Homo sapiens: one gene and its partners. The protein of the gene in region 2 purifies or fractionates together with the protein of the main gene of each other region. This does not show direct contact. Each region holds a gene or a part of one and is shown on either strand. Other genes may lie near its edges.

Evidence for each region.
Region 1: the proteins of B3GLCT (region 2) and CD82 fractionate together in Homo sapiens (co-fractionation; one large-scale study listed by BioGRID). This does not show direct contact.
Region 3: the proteins of B3GLCT (region 2) and KIF2C fractionate together in Homo sapiens (co-fractionation; one large-scale study listed by BioGRID). This does not show direct contact.

The regions. Positions count from the first base shown.
Region 1 is NC_000011.10:44,617,636-44,620,981, forward strand, and holds the end of CD82 (CD82 antigen), read left to right. Parts: intron 1-526; coding exon 527-730; intron 731-1,004; coding exon 1,005-1,088; intron 1,089-1,413; coding exon 1,414-1,491; 3' UTR 1,492-2,723; downstream 2,724-3,346. UniProt on the Homo sapiens protein: Structural component of specialized membrane microdomains known as tetraspanin-enriched microdomains (TERMs), which act as platforms for receptor clustering and signaling.
Region 2 is NC_000013.11:31,198,449-31,202,880, reverse strand, and holds the start of B3GLCT (beta-1,3-glucosyltransferase precursor), read right to left. Parts: upstream 2,907-4,432; 5' UTR 2,797-2,906; coding exon 2,727-2,796; intron 1-2,726. UniProt on the Homo sapiens protein: O-glucosyltransferase that transfers glucose toward fucose with a beta-1,3 linkage. Specifically glucosylates O-linked fucosylglycan on TSP type-1 domains of proteins, thereby contributing to elongation of O-fucosylglycan.
Region 3 is NC_000001.11:44,766,007-44,768,372, reverse strand, and holds the end of KIF2C (kinesin-like protein KIF2C), read right to left. Parts: intron 1,548-2,366; coding exon 1,424-1,547; intron 1,277-1,423; coding exon 1,194-1,276; 3' UTR 606-1,193; downstream 1-605. UniProt on the Homo sapiens protein: In complex with KIF18B, constitutes the major microtubule plus-end depolymerizing activity in mitotic cells. Regulates the turnover of microtubules at the kinetochore and functions in chromosome segregation during mitosis.

The DNA of each region.
Region 1 (3,346 bases), on a different chromosome or scaffold from region 2:
AGGAAGCTCAGAGGCAAATCTCAACTCCTGCACTAAAGTTGAACGGCCTTTCCTAAGCTTATTGTGCTCCCCACACCTATGCTTGGTACTTTGCCTGCCTCATCCCATTTAGTCCTTGTGATAGCCCTGTGAGTTGGGGATTTTAATTATCCCCATTTACAGATGAGGAAACTGAGGCTAGTTCCTTGATGGAGGTTGCTCAGCTGGTAGGCGGCAGGGCTGGGATTGTAACCCAGTAGCCTGACTTTAAACCCTGCACTGTGAACTGTCTGCCGTCCATTCTCCTTGTGCCCTGCACACCTGCGCTCCTTCAACTTGAACTTCCTTCCTACTCTGCTTTGTATTTTTGCTGGTCCTGGTTTTGATTTTTCTGCTGTACTTGTAGTTTATGATGGTTCGGCTGGGACCAGGGGCCTGGAAGTGGCATATCTCAGTCTCTGTCCTGGGGAGGTCCTCCCTCTGCCAGGAGGGCAGCCTGCCTAGGGTGAGCCGTGAGCACAAGCAGTCTGTCCCCTGCCTTGCCCAGGTGAAGTGCTGCGGCTGGGTCAGCTTCTACAACTGGACAGACAACGCTGAGCTCATGAATCGCCCTGAGGTCACCTACCCCTGTTCCTGCGAAGTCAAGGGGGAAGAGGACAACAGCCTTTCTGTGAGGAAGGGCTTCTGCGAGGCCCCCGGCAACAGGACCCAGAGTGGCAACCACCCTGAGGACTGGCCTGTGTACCAGGAGGTGTGCGGGGGGCTGCGGATCGGGGGCGGGGCTCCGAGGGCGTTGGGGGCCATCTGGGCTACTGCTCAGCAATTCCTTCCTGCATTTAGTTCCTTCCCTTAATTCATCTGTCATTTGTACCTTCATCTACTTCTTTGTTAATGTATTTATTCAAGGAACAGGCAGAGCCCTCTGTAGGGGCTTCCGGGCTGGGACTGGGGGGCTCTCGGTGGTTCTGCATGGCGGGGTGGGATGGTGCAGAGCGGGGTGATGTGACCGCATTCTGCCCTTGCAGGGCTGCATGGAGAAGGTGCAGGCGTGGCTGCAGGAGAACCTGGGCATCATCCTCGGCGTGGGCGTGGGTGTGGCCATCATCGAGGTCTGAGCCCCCTCCCCCATCCCTTCTCCATCCCAGGTCCTCCTGGGTTGTCTCTGTTCTGCTGATCTCCTTGGGGAGGTGGTGGCCAAGGGGGCCAGCACCCCATCAGCTTCCAGAGGCCCTCTGGTCTGAGCACTGTCTGGCTGTGTGACCTCAGACAAGGCACTGCCCCGCTCTGGGCCTCCCTCTGCTGCCTGCATCACAGGGTGGTTGTGAGGCTCAAGTTGAGGATCCACTTAATCCCCATGTAAACCTGGATGGTGAGGCTGGGGCGTCTGAGGCCGGGACACCCAGCCTCCCTCTGACTCTCCGCCTCTCCCCACAGCTCCTGGGGATGGTCCTGTCCATCTGCTTGTGCCGGCACGTCCATTCCGAAGACTACAGCAAGGTCCCCAAGTACTGAGGCAGCTGCTATCCCCATCTCCCTGCCTGGCCCCCAACCTCAGGGCTCCCAGGGGTCTCCCTGGCTCCCTCCTCCAGGCCTGCCTCCCACTTCACTGCGAAGACCCTCTTGCCCATCCTGACTGAAAGTAGGGGGCTTTCTGGGGCCTAGCGATCTCTCCTGGCCTATCCGCTGCCAGCCTTGAGCCCTGGCTGTTCTGTGGTTCCTCTGCTCACCGCCCATCAGGGTTCTCTTAGCAACTCAGAGAAAAATGCTCCCCACAGCGTCCCTGGCGCAGGTGGGCTGGACTTCTACCTGCCCTCAAGGGTGTGTATATTGTATAGGGGCAACTGTATGAAAAATTGGGGAGGAGGGGGCCGGGCGCGGTGGCTCACGCCTGTAATCCCAGCACTTTGGGAGGCCGAGGCGGGTGGATCACGAGGTCAGGAGATCGAGACCATCCTGGCTAACATGGTGAAACCCCGTCTCTACTAAAAATACAAAAAAAATTTAGCCGGGCGCGGTGGCGGGCACCTGTAGTCCCAGCTACTTGGGAGGCTGAGGCAGGAGAATGGTGTGAACCCGGGAGCGGAGGTTGCAGTGAGCTGAGATCGTGCTACTGCACTCCAGCCTGGGGGACAGAAAGAGACTCCGTCTCAAAAAAAAAAAAAAAAAAAAAAAAAATTGGGGAGGGAAGGGCGTTAGATAAGGCACTCTGGGCTGTCAGGAGACTGCCTACTGGGTGGGTCAACTTATTTCCCACTATGACATTTATATCTTTATTTTTCACAATTATATTGAAGGCAGTGGGAGAGGGGAGAGGGTGGGTTTTACCTGATATTAAGGGGTGGCACCCCTTCCCCAGGCCTGATGCAGGTCCATCTAGACAGCTCAGATTAGCCTAGGCCATGCCCTAGGGACACGGCCTAGGGGAGCTGGGCTGGAGGGGGTCTGCCTGGGTAAGGGGATCTGGCTTGGCCCTGAGCTGCTTAGGGACAGGTGAGTCCTTGGGGGCATGGCACAGAGCTGGTCCTGTATTCTCCAGGGTCCGGAGCTGGCCAGGGGCGGGGAGGAGGAGGATGGCTTCTCCTGGGAGAAGGTGGGCTGGCCTTTCTTGGCAAGCGGTCCTCTGGCCCCTGGGGAGTGGGGTGGGTGAGGCTGTGCCTTGTAGGGGGAGAGGGGAGGGGGCTTTGTGTGCACCATTCTGTAAAACACACTCAAGATTCTAAGACTATTAAAGAGGATTTATAACAGTCTAGTCTGGAATGGTAGGGATGCTGCTTCCTGGGGCAGGGGAGGACCCAGGGCAGAGGGTGTGAGCAGAGTGGCTGGGTCTGCTGGAGACTGCTGGACCCCTCACTGCTCTGCCCTCCCCGCAGGCATCTGCTTCTGCAGCCTGAACCTTAGGACCGTGATGGGCCAGGCTCTGATGGGCCTGCCTGCATGCCGGGGTGCCTGGAGTTTGATTTGGTGCTAAGAGAGGTATAGATTGTACCTCTCAATTCCTGCTTCTGAAACTAGGGTATGGGTGCCCCCAGAAGCTGCACAAAAGTGGGCTGGTGATGGGGGACAGGGAAGCCACAGGATAAACTTGGCATCGCTTTCTAGAGCATCCGTTTCTGCAAAGATTTGTGGAAGGAAACATTTTCATACTAAAGAAATGTGATGGAGTAAGATGTGCAGAATTCAGGGGACTTTTTAAGATGAAATGTGAGACTTTGGGAGGCTGAGGCAGGTGGATCACTTGAGGTCAGGAGTTCGAGTCCAACCTGGCCAACATGGTGAAACCCCATCTCTCCAAAAAATACAGAAATTAGCCGAGTGTGGTGGTGCACGCCTGTAATGCCAGCTACTCAGGAGGCTGAGAAAGGAGAAT
Region 2 (4,432 bases):
CAGGCTTCTTCTATCTTTCTCTTCTACCATCCTTACTACTGGCTTCCATCTTCAAGGTCACCTCATGGTCACAAGATGGCCACCATGGCTCCATCCCTCAGATCCACTTAATAGGCAATGGGAAGGAGGATAACACAGAGCAAAAAGGCCTGCATCCCAGCTGAGTCAGCCACCTTGAATGAGCTTTACCAGGAGCCCCACCAAACAATCTCTAAAGATATCTCTGTAGAGCACTAGCTGCCCCTATATGCAAAGGCCACTGAGAAATGTCTCACAGTGCTGCTGCCACCGCTGCCACCACCACCCCACCATCCTTCCCCCCAACCCAGATTATATTAGTTTTGTTAGGAAAACAAGGGCTAAAGGGTTACTTCGCAGGTGGCTGTCAATCTCTGCTACAACGGGATCAGTATGTTAAAACTGTAAGAGGTGGCAAAGTGCTAGTATTCTATCCAGTCCATTCGCCCTGTTCATATGAGAAAACTGAAGCTCAAAGCCACTAAAAGCCACACAGCTAACAAATGGTAACCTGGAGGCCTGACTCAATCTTCTCATTCTGAAACTGGTGCCAGACTTTAGAACCAAAGTTGCAGTGAACCGTGTCTGTATATGCATGTGGGTTTAAAAGAAATTTTCTATATTGACTTTTCTCTAAAAATATAAACAAATATGCTCTAGTTTGTGGGGAAACTAAACTATATAGTCAGGCCAATCTTATATGGGAATATTTAAGGTATTTATAAACTATCAAGATTGTTCACATGTGACAGAACGCCTGTCACATTCTGTTTCAGCAAGATTCCAAGAACATCGTAAGTGGGGACATCTTTATACGTGTCGGTGCCCTTCCCCTAAATCGAAGCAGAGCTCCATAAAAGGTATTCATGATTCACTTCAGACCTCGAAGAATACAGCCTCCCGTCTGTGCCAACCCATGAAAGCCAGTTCCCAAAGGCCAAATGTCTCACAGGGACCTTTTAATGCATTTTATGTCTTATTTATTGTGCTTATCTGACAACTTCACAAGGCTAATAGACATCTCTAAAAATGTGTTGACATCTTAGTGCATTCTGAATGTCCTTCAGTGTATTATCAAATTTGGACAGTGCAAATATTCCCCTGGGGGTAATAAAAAATAGACACAGCAATACAAATGTGCATTTCAGCCCATATGTTGTATATATTATATACAAATATTATACCCCCAGTACAGCATTATAAAGTGCAGTGCTATAAATAGAATACCAATTTCAGCTACCACCCACCCATTTGGTTAGTTGCAAAACATCCAGGCAACAAGCCAACTGATGCAGCCAGGAGTCACCCAGTCGCTTTCCCAAACCTCCAACCTCCCTTTCTCCCAGGGCTGCCACCCAGCAATGCCCTTCTTCCACTGAAGCCGATTCCAGCCAAATTCAGTCGCTCCCCAAGACCAACTACAGCCTTCTCTGCCGGAGGTGCCCTAATATTTTTAATTACACTGCTGCCTAATTAATCATGCATGTAAACAATTACCAACTAATCTTGCTCTTTTCCCACACTTACTGAGCGCCTATAGAAATGCCAGAAGTACACAAATGCAGCAAATTAATCCTTATTCAGAGAGCTTAAATACAAATAAAAACAGGCTGTCAAGGTTCCGGTGGGCTAACAAGAGCAGTGCGCAATAACGCTACGTCTTTTCCTAAACTGCACCATTCTGCCATTACTAAAAAATCTGAAATCATTGCCTTTTCACACCAGCAAGTCTGGGTTAGAGGACAAAAACTCTGTAGCAGTCTGAAAAAAAAATAATTTTTCGCTCAAGCTTTCAAAGTTGAACAAATCTGATCATGAAAGTCAATTACAAGGCTGCTTTTTTTTTTTTTTTAACTTTTATCACATCGTTTTAAGATAAAGGGGGGAAATGCCCTTGCGAGGAGAAAAGAAATAAAAAAGAATGGGCATTACAGCAGCAGGAGACCGGGCAAGCACTGCTCTGCTCGCAGACGTGTCCCCTGATGTCCCCAGCGGAGACCCGAGACAGGAGCAAGCCTCCCCGCCGCGCCAGCTCCCGCGGAGGCCCAGCGGGCGCCCCTGTCCTCCTCCGGGTCGGAATCCGGGAAGGGCTGGCGCCGAGCTGGCCGCTTATCCTCAGGGGCCAGGGCACGTCCCGAAGGCCCTGCGGAGGGGCGCGCGGACACCGGGACCGCAGTCCTCGCCCCCGGGGGTCGAACAGGAGCCGCGGGGCCTCGAGGGCCGCCTCGCCGGCTCCCGTCCAGCCTCCCGCCCGGCGCGGGGCGCGCAGGACGGCGGAGCGCGGGCGGAAGGCAGGGGGGCGGGACCGCCGCCGCCGCCACTCGCGCTGTTGCAAAGTTTCTTCGGTGGCACAGTTCCTGCGCGCTTCCTGTGGGGGCGGCTGCTGCGCCCTCGCCGCCCCGTCGCCCGCCGGTTCGGGGCGGCAGAGGCTGGGAGACGCGAGTCTGGGGCCGGGGCGGCAGCGGGGACCCAAGACCGAAAGGGGCCGAGCGGGCACGCCTCGGGTCCCGGGCCCGGGTCCCACCTGGGCGCCGCGAGAGGGCGCTGCTGACGGCGCGGCGCGGCGGGGACCGGACGGCGGGACGCGCGCGCCGGCGGGGCAGGGCTGGGCCGCCCTGCGCCTCCCTCCCCGCGCCGACCGGGGCACGGGCGACTGTGCCCGCGAACCCCACGCCTCGCCCTTGCGCGCCTGGCCGCCCGCTACTTACCCAGGGAGCAGGTGAGGAGCGCGAGCAGCGCCGGCGGCGCGAGCAGCCACCAGCAGGCGGGCGGCCGCATCCTGGCGGCGGAGGCTGAGCGCCCTACCTGGGCGCGGGGAAGGGAGACGCGCGGGGAGCGGAGCTGCGCCGCTGCCGCCGCCGCCCTGCCGCCGCGGCTGACCCTTCTCTGCCGGCTCCCCTCCTCCCTCCGTCTCCGCCGCGCCATCGCCGGCCGCGCCCTCTGGCGGCCGGGAGCGGGAGCACCCCTGTGCGCGCTTCCAGCGTCTGCCGGGCTGGCGGCTGCGGCTGGTGTCCGGCCCGACGGGCTGCTGCGGTAGAGGTGGCCGCGGCTCTGCCCTCACGGCGCCCTCCTTCGAGGCGTCTGACCTCTGCCCCCTCCAGCCACCAGCCTCCACCCCTCCTCTTCCTTTCTCCTCTGCGTCCCTCCTGACCTAGGCCGCGTCCCCTGCCTTCATGCCCTCCCACCTTACCGCGTCACCCCCATCAGTAGTTCTACCTGTGAAGTGGAAGCGAGCAGTAATCACTTTTCCTCCCTGCTAATGTATTATCTGCTGTGGAAAAAAAAATGTAATCAATAGTTCAACTCTTAATATTGTTGGCACCAATGCTCTACTTTGATGAAGGTGTTTTTAATCAGCTCAACTAATTTACTTAATATCCCCTTTAAATGGAATTTGGCCAATAGCCTAGGTCTGGGATTTGGCTTTTAAACAAGTTTGTGTAAATGTAATTTTCTATAAATGTAATTTTAAGTGTTCACCATAATGGAAGAGAGTGGGTGTAATTTTATTCAAAATATAAAAATTAATTAAACTGGAATACAGAGAAGTGGAGCAATGTGGGAGTGCCTCCTGTTCCCGCAGGACTGCGAAGGGCTTTCCTCCCCAGCCCGGTAGAGTGGTGGCCCTGATAGGGGACTGGTCCTGTTGTGTTGTGTGGTGCACTGAAGGGGAAAGCATTACAAGTAAGAACTAGAGGCTCCCTTCAGTGGTTCTGAACTCCTTCGTGCCTCCCTCAAGCCTTGGCTCACTTCTGTTTCCAAGGAAGTGCACAGGACCAAGTGCTTTTCCCAGCCCTAGTTTAGCCCATGACCTCTTGAAGGCAGTTTCTATGTTTTCCTTCATATTTACTCATTTGTTGGATACCTACTATGTGACTGCAACTCTGCTAAGCACCCTAGGAATGCCAGTATCTTTCACATGGACATACAACATTCACCTACTTGCTAAACATTTAAGGAGGAGGAGGCCCTGGGAGTACAAGTAGGATGGCCCTGGGAATACAAGTAGGATGTCCTGGAGACAGAGAAGCAGGTGCTGAATAAACATTTGTAGGCTTGAGCCCTCTTAACTTGAATGCGTTTAGGGGACTTAGGCTCTAATGCATTAGGACAGTATTGTCTGCAATTGTGCAATACCTGCTGGGATTGTTTTGAAAAGGAGGCCTGGAGACAAAGAATTTTCTCTCTGTGTGGTTTATATTGACTTCTTAAAACTGGGAACTAAATATTTCACGTGTGATCCATTTAGTGTGAGTGCAAATAGTTCCCTTTTGTTCCATTCGCCCAAGGTTTATGGTCTCTTGTCAATACCATTTTGATGGGAGGAAAAAGAAATGTAGGGATCCTTCCATTTCATTTCTTAGTGAAGCATTTCAAATCTATGGTTGACTGAATTCATTGCTTTTATCCTTGG
Region 3 (2,366 bases), on a different chromosome or scaffold from region 2:
ACGGGGTTTCACCATGTTGGTCTCCAATTCCTGACCTCAGGTGATCCACCTGCCTCGGCCTCCCAAAGTGCTGGGATTACAGGTGTTAGCCACTACACCTGGCCTTTTTTTTTGAGACAGCCTTACTCTGTCTCCCAGGCTGGAGTGCTGTGGCACAGTCTCGGCTCACTGCCGCCTCCGCCTCCCGGGTTCAAGCAATTCTCCTGCCTCAGCCTCCTGAGTAGCTAGAACTATAGGTGCGTGCCACCATGTACCATGCCCAGCTAATTTTTGTATTTTTAGTAGAGATGGGGTTTCACCATGTTGGCCAGGCTGGTCTTGAATTCCTGACCTTGCGATCTGCCCGCCTTGGCCTTCCAAAGTGCTGGGATTATAGGCGTGGGCCACCGTGCCCGGCGGCCATCTTCCTTCTACTTAAGAGTTTCTGTTCCCAGGCCTAGTAAGCATCTCATAGACATCAAACAAGTCACAGGAGTCTTCAGCTTGTCATTGGAATTGTAGGTGTGGATATGGCCTCCTGGAAGGAGTACAGAATCAGTACTACCCAGAGGCCAAAGGTACAGTCATGTCCTTAGTCCCAAAAGGCTCAGACACATCCCAGGCCCTTTCCACACACTTAAACAGCTGATTTATTTTTTCTCTTTATTGTTACATACAATGTATAAACACATAAAACAGAAAACAGTAGGGATCCTCTAGGATCTCTAGGGAGACAGTAAAGTAGAAAGAGGTCTCAGAAACATTTTTTTAAAGTACAAGACATTCAGTGCTCGGCCCAAAGGCGTAGAAGGTTTAGAGCCAGCAGATAGCTGTACTAAAGGCTCCGTCTCTCTCCCCAGAGCCAGGACAACCCCAGGGAGCTCTCCATTAGCAGCCAGTCCACGCAGGCAGGATGCTGCGGAGAAAGCTCTATGCTGAGAACATTCCCCTTGATGGAAAGAAGGGCAACACAAAAGGGTAACTAAGAGCTCCTTCCTCTCGTGAGGGCGACAACTGAGGAACAGAAAAGGAGTGTCCCATGTCACTCTGACCCCCTCCCCAGCTGCCCTGGGCCCAGATGCCCCCATACTTGGCATTTACCAGAACCTGTCCCAGCTCAGACCCTGCCTAGACCCACCAGGTACCCAAAGTTCTCTGGGGAGGGCCAGGGAAGAGGCTGGGTGTCAAACCAAACAGATTTTTATTTGCAGTCGTCACTGGGGCCGTTTCTTGCTGCTTATTTGTCTGCTAGCCTGCTCTTCCAGCTGCATGGCCAGGCGCAAGGCCTTGATGACATCTGGAAGAAAGGGTAGCGGTACATATGGGGTTAGTGAGAGTCTGAGGAGCCCCCATTCACTCAGGGCAGAGCTGCCATCACCTGCAGCTGCCCAAGAGCCAGCAGAGGCCACCATCGTCCACCTGCACCCCATCCAGCCACACCCACCTCGCAGGGCTGAGAAATGCTTGGCTTGCTGGGCCAGAGCAGATTCCGCTTTGTTCACAAAGGTCTCCAGGTCATAGTCTGGCTGCTCGGTCATCTCAGAGAGCTCAAGCCAGTCTGGTCCTTGCTACAACACAGGGAGGACCTTGTCAGTTCAATAACCATTTAGCAAATCATTCCTGGGGTCCTACCAACTGCAATGCAGACACCTGAGTAAGATGCTTTACCTCTGGTCCCTGACCCATACCCTGGCTGTTCACCCTCTCCCCAAGGAAATCCTTAGCTTGAATTCACCCTCTTCCTACCCCAAGCTTGTTTTTTTCGTTTTCTTTGTTTCTTTTTTGAGACAGTTTCACTCTTGTTGCCCAGGCTGGAGTGCAATGGCGTGATCTCGGCTCACCATAGCCTCCACCCCCCGAGTTTAAGGGATTCTCCTGCTTCAGCCTCCCAAGTAGCTGGGATTACAGGCAAGTGCTACCACGCCCAGCTAATTTTGTATTTTTAGTAGAGACGGGGTTTCTCCATGTTGGCCAGGCTGATCTCGAACTCTCGACCTCAGGTGATCCGCAGGCCTCGGCCTCTCAAAGTGCTGGGATTACAGGCTTGAGCCACCACTTCCGGCCTCCTATCCCAAGCTTATCCCCATCTCTTATGTCAAATGAATAACATCATTGGTCCTGATGCCCAAGCTAGAAATTTGAGTGATTTTATTTTTATTGTTTTTTGAGATGGAGTCTCACTCTGTCACCCAGGCTGGAGTGAAGTGGTGTGCGATCCTGGCTCACTGCAACCTCCGCCTCCCAGGTTTAAGTGATTCTCCTGTCTCAGCCTCCCGAGTAGCTGGGACTACAGGCACACACCACCATAGCCAGCTAATTTATTTATTTATTTATTTTTTCTTTAAGACGGAGTCTTGCTCTGTCGCCAGGTTGGAGTGCAGTGGCGT